2 linked regions of the Homo sapiens genome follow. The protein of the gene in region 1 purifies or fractionates together with the protein of each later gene. This does not show direct contact. Each region holds a gene or a part of one and is shown on either strand. Other genes may lie near its edges.

Region 1 (3,815 bases):
TATCTGGTCCTCAGCCTCAGCATAGTGTATCTGGTCCTCAGCCTCGGCATGGTGTATCTGATCCTCAACCTCAGCATAGTGTATCTGATGACACTTTGACCTATCTTTCCCAAATGATGTAAATGCTCCTGTCAGTTTCTGCTGCAGTAAAATAGCTCTTCCTTTATTCACAGAAAGGGAATAAGTTACATGGACTCCTTAGATTTATTATTTAAAGCATGATGGACCATTATGCTGATTCTGTTTTTAATGTTTATTTCACTTTGGAATTAGTCTTGTTCCCCGGGAAATCATTTCCTGGCTTCTAAGTTGACAGTTCTCTGTTATTTGTTGTGCCTGAAAAGTTTGGTACAACCAGGCTAACAGAGGCAGTTAGTGCAGATGATGATGTCAAAAATCTCTTTATAGGCTGAGCATGGTGGCTCACACCTGGAATCCCAGCATTTTGGGAGGCCAAGGTGGGATTGCTTGAGTCCAGGAGTTCGAGACCAGCCTGGGCAACATGGTCTCTACAAAAAAAAAAAAAAAAAATTAGCTGGGCATGGTGGTGTCCATCTGTGGTCCCATCTACTTGGGAGGCTGAGATGGGAGGATCACTTGAGCCCAGGAGGTCAAGGCTGCCGTGAGCTGTGACCACATCAGTGCACTCCAGGCTGGATGACAGAGTGAGACCCTGTCTCAAAAAAAAAATGAAAAGGTCTTTATAGTCATTTTTCATAACCCAACCTACCCCTAAAATCAGGGTGAATACCCAGAGAACACCTAAAGAAAGGAGTATGCAGTTGGGCCGGGCGCGGTTGCTCACACCTGTAATCCCAGCACTTTGGGAGGCTTAGGCGGGTGGATCACGAGGTCAGGAGATCGAGACCATCCTGTCTAACACTGTGAAACCCCATCTCTACTAAAAAATAATACAAAAAATTAGCTGGGCTTGGTGGTGGGCGCCTGTAGTTCCAGCTACTCAGGAGGCGGAGGCAGGAGAGTCGCTTGAATCCGGGAGTTGCAGGTTGTAGTGAGCCGAGATCGTGCCACTGCACTCCAGTCTGGGTGATGGAGCGAGATTCCGTCTCAAGAAAAAAATAAAAAAAAAGAAAGGAGTATACAGTCATGGAACTGTCACACAGAGCCAGTTCCATTTGCCAAGTACAAGATATCGAATCAATGTATTTTTGTGGCTTGGCATGGTGGTTCACACCTGTAATCCCAGCACTTTGGGAGGCTGAGGCTGGCGGGTCATTTGAGACCAGGAATTCGAGACCAGCCTGGCCAACAAGGAAAAACCCCATCTCTACTAAAAACACAAAAATTAGGCAGGCGTGATGACATGCACCTGTAATCCCAGCTGCTTGGGAGGCTGAGGCAGGAGAATCACTTGAACCCAGGAGGCGGAAGTTGCAGTGAGCCGAGATCACGCCACTGCACTCCAGCCTGGGTGACAGAGTGAGACTCGGCCTCAAAAATAAAAATAAAAATGACAAAAAAAAAGGTATTTTTGTGATCAATTCTTTCATTTGGATTTAGGTGAGCGACCTGTGAGAGTTTATGCCGATGGAATATTTGACTTATTTCACTCTGGTCACGCCCGAGCTCTGATGCAAGCGAAGAACCTTTTCCCTAATACGTACCTCATTGTGGGAGGTAAGAAAACATTTGGTGACTTCAGGTGCTGTGCAGAAAAAGATGATAGTACAGTCTGTCTTTCTCAGCTGAGTACACTGGCTCTTGTTTCCATTTTTAAATGAAGGATGTAGTACAGCCTCTCTAACACACATGAAGTATATGGGTACCAGCAAACTAAACCTGGAGAGAGGAGCTTCAAGCTCCTCGACTGTGCCATCTGGCATTTATTCACTGCTTGTAGCTGAGTTTCTGTGGTCACAGGAGCAGCCGTGACTTCCGTTGTCCACTTTAAAACATTTGCTTTAGATTTCAGTTTATCATTTTGAATTAACTGGAGTACAAAAGTCTGCCAAGGAAATGTTAGGTGGTCCAGTCCAGTGTGAATAAAACAGGAAAACATGTTTAAGGACTTAATTGATGCAGACACGCACAGCAGGTTTATTTCAGAGTCAAAGATCTTGGTCACCTGTTGTACTGTCCCTTCTCCAAAGTATGAACATACTGTTTAGTGAGTGTTGCTCCTGAAGGTATACGCTGCATTAGGAAAAGCGTTATCACCCAGGTTCAACCACCTTTAGAAGACTTTTTTCCAGTTGGGGAAGATGGTTGCAGTCCTAAGCAGTGGGAGAAGATGGGAGAGGTCGGTGGCTGAGGAGGTGCTAAGCAAAGAGGACTCCAACACACAATTTATGATGTGGTGAACCAGTTTGCAGTGATGAGCTCACACACAACTTCAAAGGCTTCACGGTGATGAACGAGAATGAGCGCTATGACGCAGTCCAGCACTGCCGCTACGTGGATGAGGTGGTGAGGAATGCGCCCTGGACGCTGACACCCGAGTTCCTGGCCGAACACCGGGTAAGAAACTGGACACATATTCCCATTCCTTGTTTCAGAATCCCCTCAACTCTCAAAGCTGCTGGCACGTAGGCTGGTTTTCCACTAGCCGTGTTTTACTTCTACCTCTTATGTAAGTTTCGTAGGAGATGACAGTGATATTACTAGTGATAACAGTCACCCCTGACGTTTATATGGGGCTGGATGGTTTGCAAGCACTTTTACATCCATTCTATTCCATTTTCTGCCCACAGCAATCCTGTGGTGTGTTTGTCATTTCCGCTTTACATATGAGTAACAAGGGCTAGAGAAACCAAATAACCTGCTCCAAGTTACACCATTGGCAGGGCTGGGAACTGAACTCGCCACAAGTTACACCACTGGCAGGGCTGGGAACTGAACTCGCCACAAGTTACACCACTGGCAGGGCTGGGAACTGAACTCGCCACAAGTTACACCACTGGCAGGGCTGGGAACTGAACTCGCCACAAATTACACCACTGGCAGGGCTGGGAACTGAACTCGCCACAAGTTACACCACTGGCAGGGCTGGGAACTGAACTCACCAGTTACGAGACCTTCCCCCCACACCATAGGCACATCTACCCTTAGAACATGCCAGTCTCCTGAGAATATCCATAGCCCCAGGTGAACTCTGAAGACGGTCACATTACCAGGAAATAAGACGGATTAACATAGACTTTTCTTGGCTTAAGTTTCATTTCAGGGCTTTGATCTTATGCTAGAAATTGGGTGGAATCAGAAATCAAGGATATTTCTCACTGTTTCTCAGTAAGTTATTATCAACCCCTTACCTCCTTTTAATTCTCCCACATTAAAGTAACAGATTTCAGCCAGGTGCAGTGGCTCACGCCTGTAATCCAAGCACTTTGGGAGGCCAAGGTGGGAGGATCGCTTGAGCCCAGGAGCTCAAGACCAGCCTGGGCAACATACCGAGACCCTGTCTCTACTTTAAAAAAAAAAAAGCCACAGGTTTCCTGCAAAAGGTGGGTACAAAAGATGAGAAGGATTGATTAGGCCAGGTTAGAGGCCCCCAAGCCTGAGGAAATAGCAAGCATGTTGTCAGTTCTCTACAGGGGCGCGTGGAATGTTGTAGGTAAATTGTTCAGTGAGGCAGAAAGAATGAAGGCAGCCAAAGTGCTTCTAAAGCAATACGTGGGTAGGCCTGAAGAGGGGATATTTATTAAAACTATTGAGGATTAGGACAGACCTTTTATAATTCTCTGGCTTTTCTACATCAACACCTAGCAGCCAGTGGCACCAAAGGTGGTAAGCAAGTTTATTCTCAGCACCACAGCCCACAGGCCCAGACAGAAGTATGAAGTTAGAGGAATTTC
Region 2 (3,815 bases), on another chromosome or scaffold:
GAGACCAGACTGGGCAACATGGCAAGACCCTGTCTCTATTAAAAAATAAAAAATAAATTAAGTGTACAGTCTAATTTTTTTCAGATTCACAAATTTTGAAACATTTACTTTTATCTTTCTTTCTCTCTTTTTTTTTTTGAGGGGGGACGAAGTCTCGCTCTGTCACCCAGGCTGGAGTGCAGTGGTACAATATTGGCTCACTGCAATCTCTGCCTCCCAGGTTCAAGTGATTCTCCTGCCTCAGCCTCCCAAGTAGCTGGTATTACAGGCGCCCACCACCACACCTGGCTAATTTTTATATTTTTAGTAGAGACAGAGTTTCACCATGTTGGCCAGGCTGGTCTCGAACTCCCGACCTCAAAAGATCCACCTGTCTCAGCCTCCCAAAGTGCTGGGATTATAGGCGTGAGCCACCATGCCTGGCCTATATTGTGTTTCTTAAGAACAACATCATTATCTTACACAACCATGATGCAATTGTAAAATTCAAGAATTATTTCTAAAATATAGTCCATATTTGGTTTTTTTTTTTTTTGAGCTAGGGTCTCACTCTGGCTGCCCAGGCTGGAGTGCAGTGATGCGATCTTGGCTGACTGCAGCCTCTGCCTCCCTAGTTCAAGCAGTTCTGCCTCAGCCTCCTGAGTATCTGGGATTACAGGCGCCTGCCACCATACCCAGTTAATTTTTGTATTTTCAGTAGAGACGGGGTTTTGCCATGTTGGCCTGGCTGGTCTCGAACTCCTGACCTCAGGTGATCCACCACCACCCCTGCCTCCCAAAGTGTAGGGATTACAGGCGTGAGCCACTGTGCCGGTATAGAATGCCCTTCATAGCAACATTTCCCCCAATCCAGGAACCAACCCAGGATCACTTGTTGCCTGTTGTTTTTTAGACAGAGTCTTGTTCTGTCGCCCAGGCTGGAGTGCAGTGGCATGATGTCAGCTCACCTCAACCTCTGCCTCCCAAGTTCAAGTGATTTTCATGCCTCAGCCTCGTGAGTAGCTGGGACTACAGGCATGTGCTACCACGCCAAGCTAATTTTTGTATTATTATTATTTTTTAATAAAGACAGGGTTTCACCATGATGGCCAGGCTGGTCTTGAACTCCTGGCCTCAGGTGATCCACCCGCCTCAGCCTCCCAAAGTACTGGGATTACAGGTGTGAGCCACTGCGCCCGGCCTAGTTTTCTTTCTTTCTTTCTTTCTTTTTTTTTTTTTTGAGACAGAGTCTCACTCTGTCGCTCAGGTTGGAGTGCAGTGGCGATCTCAGCTCACTGCAAGCTCCGCCTCCCAGGTTCACGCCGTTCTCCTGCCTCAGCCTCCCAAGTAGCTGGGTCTACAGGCACCTGCCACCATGCCCGGCTAATTTTTTTAGTAGAGACGGGGTTTCACTATGTTGGCCAGGATGGTCTTGATCTCCTGACCTCGTGATCCACCCACCTTGGCCTCCCAAAGTGCTGGGATTATAGGCATGAGCCACTGCACCCGGCCCTCTTTTTTTTTTTTTTTTTTTTTTTGAGACGGAGTCTTGCTCTGTTGTCCAAGCTGGAGTGCAGTGGCACCATCTCGGCTTACTGCAAGCTCTGCCTCCATTCTTCTGCCCCAGCCTCCTGAGTAGCTGAGACTACAGGCGCCTACCACCACATCCGGCTAATGTTTTGTATTTTTAGTAGAGATGGGGTTTCACCATGTTAGCCAGGATGGTCTCGATCTCCTGACTTCAAGATCTGCCCGCCTTGGCCTCCCAAAGTGCTGGGATTACAGGTGTGACCCACCGCACCCAGCCAGTATAGTTTTCTTTAATCTGGAAGGCTTCCTCAGCCTTTCTTGAATTTTCCAGAGACTGACATTTAGGCAGAGTACAGGACAGCTATTCTGTAGACTGTCTGTCCCTCAGTGTGCGTTTGTGTGATTGTTCCTCATGATTAGTTTCCGGTTTTGCATTATTATAATTATGGTTCTTGTTGTTGAGATGAGAATGATAATAGCAGCTATCTAACAGGATTGTTGTCAGGACTCAATTGATCATGTGAAAAGCACAGAACAATGCTGGTATGTAGCAAGTGCCCCATAAAGGAAGACTGTTGTTGTTGCCGTTGTTAATATAGAGGGTGTGGCTGGGCTCAGTGACTCACGCCTATAATCCCAGCACTTTGAGAGGCTGAGGCAAGTGGATCACTTGAGGCCAGGAGTTTCAGACCAGCCTGGGCAACATAATAAGACCCTGTTTCTACAAAAAAATTAAAAAAAATTAGTGGGGTATGATGGCACGTGCCTGTAGCCCTAGTTACTGAGGAGGCTAGGCTGGGGGCTCGCTTGAGCCCAGGGTAGAGGTGAACTATGTTCACACCACTGCACTTCAGCCTGGGTGACAGAGCGAGAACCAGTCTCTAAAATTTAAAAAAAAAAAAACAAAAAAAAAGGAGAGTGGGCGGGCCTACAAACAATGTTAGAGAAGTTGAGAAGGAGAATCACTGCCCTTCATATAGCCCCTAAGGAAGGCTGGCATAACACCAGGAGAGAGCCTGAGCTTTGCATAGGGTAGACACAGGGCTGCTGAGGTCCTTTCTGCAGAGGTGCCCAGGGCTGAGAGTTATGGAGCATTCAAGGGTCTTGACACTGGCTCTCCATGCTGATCCAACCAGGACCCGCCTCTCTGACTGGGTGCATTGCCTGAGTCCCTCTAGCTCCTCTTCCTTTTCTCTCTCCCCAAACCAGGTACTTCAAAGGCTCATCAAGTCCCGAGGAAAGTCTCAGTCCAAACACCTCAATGTCCAAATAGCGGCCTCGGAAAAGCTGGCACAGTGCCCCCCTGTGAGTGCCTAGATCCCAGGGAAGGGAATGGAGGGAGAACATTTGGGTTGTCCTGGTTTCCTCTGGCCTACATGAGAGACAGGGTGACCAGGAACACCTGGGTCAGGCCTGTGGGTGCAGACTGGTCTTCTGGGAAGAGCGCAGGTCCCGTCAGTCAAAGACTGGGTTCAAGCCCCAGAAGCACCCTTCTGCGTGGAGAGTCAAGCCCTGTCTCCCAGCCTTGGTTGCCTTATCTCTAGAATGAGGGAGTTGGACTGAGTGCCAAAACTTCTTGCAGTTCTGCCAATCTGTAGATCTGAGAGCTCTCCTTCCCTTCTACATCCAGAGGCCTCTTTTTAACCTTGTCCTTCAATCCCTTGACTCTACCCACTGCACCCAGGCCACACCCTCAACCCCCTTGGCCATGCCCCACTCATCCCAGCCCTGCCCCCTAACCCCGCCTTCACAGGAAATGTTTGACATCATCCTGGATGAGAACCAATTGGAGGATGCCTGCGAGCATCTGGCGGAGTACTTGGAAGCCTATTGGAAGGCCACACACCCGCCCAGCAGCACGCCACCCAATCCGCTGCTGAACCGCACCATGGCTACCGCAGCCCTGGCTGCCAGCCCTGCCCCTGTCTCCAACCTCCAGGTACAGGTGCTCACCTCGCTCAGGAGAAACCTCGGCTTCTGGGGCGGGCTGGAGTCCTCACAGCGGGGCAGTGTGGTGCCCCAGGAGCAGGAACATGCCATGTAGTGGGCGCCCTGCCCGTCTTCCCTCCTGCTCTGGGGTCGGAACTGGAGTGCAGGGAACATGGAGGAGGAAGGGAAGAGCTTTATTTTGTAAAAAAATAAGATGAGCGGCAGCTTCTGGTGTCTGTGGTTTTTGATGGGTCTGGGGCTTCTGGTGCTGTCTTCCTGGGCCTGGTGCCATAGGAGCGCATCTGCTGCCCGCTGGATATGAGGCCTGATGGGAGCGCTTTTAAGACAAGGGACTAGGAAGGACATGCGAGGAAGAC

The links.
Region 2: the proteins of PCYT1A (region 1) and CACNB1 purify together in Homo sapiens (co-immunoprecipitation; one large-scale study listed by IntAct). This does not show direct contact.

What each region holds. Positions count from the first base shown.
Region 1 is NC_000003.12:196,246,030-196,249,844, reverse strand, and holds part of PCYT1A (choline-phosphate cytidylyltransferase A), read left to right. Parts: intron 1-1,521; coding exon 1,522-1,638; intron 1,639-2,326; coding exon 2,327-2,478; intron 2,479-3,815. UniProt on the Homo sapiens protein: Catalyzes the key rate-limiting step in the CDP-choline pathway for phosphatidylcholine biosynthesis.
Region 2 is NC_000017.11:39,176,983-39,180,797, reverse strand, and holds part of CACNB1 (voltage-dependent L-type calcium channel subunit beta-1), read left to right. Parts: intron 1-2,718; coding exon 2,719-2,814; intron 2,815-3,262; coding exon 3,263-3,448; coding exon of another isoform or gene 3,449-3,553; exon of another isoform or gene 3,554-3,791; intron 3,792-3,815. UniProt on the Homo sapiens protein: Regulatory subunit of L-type calcium channels. Regulates the activity of L-type calcium channels that contain CACNA1A as pore-forming subunit.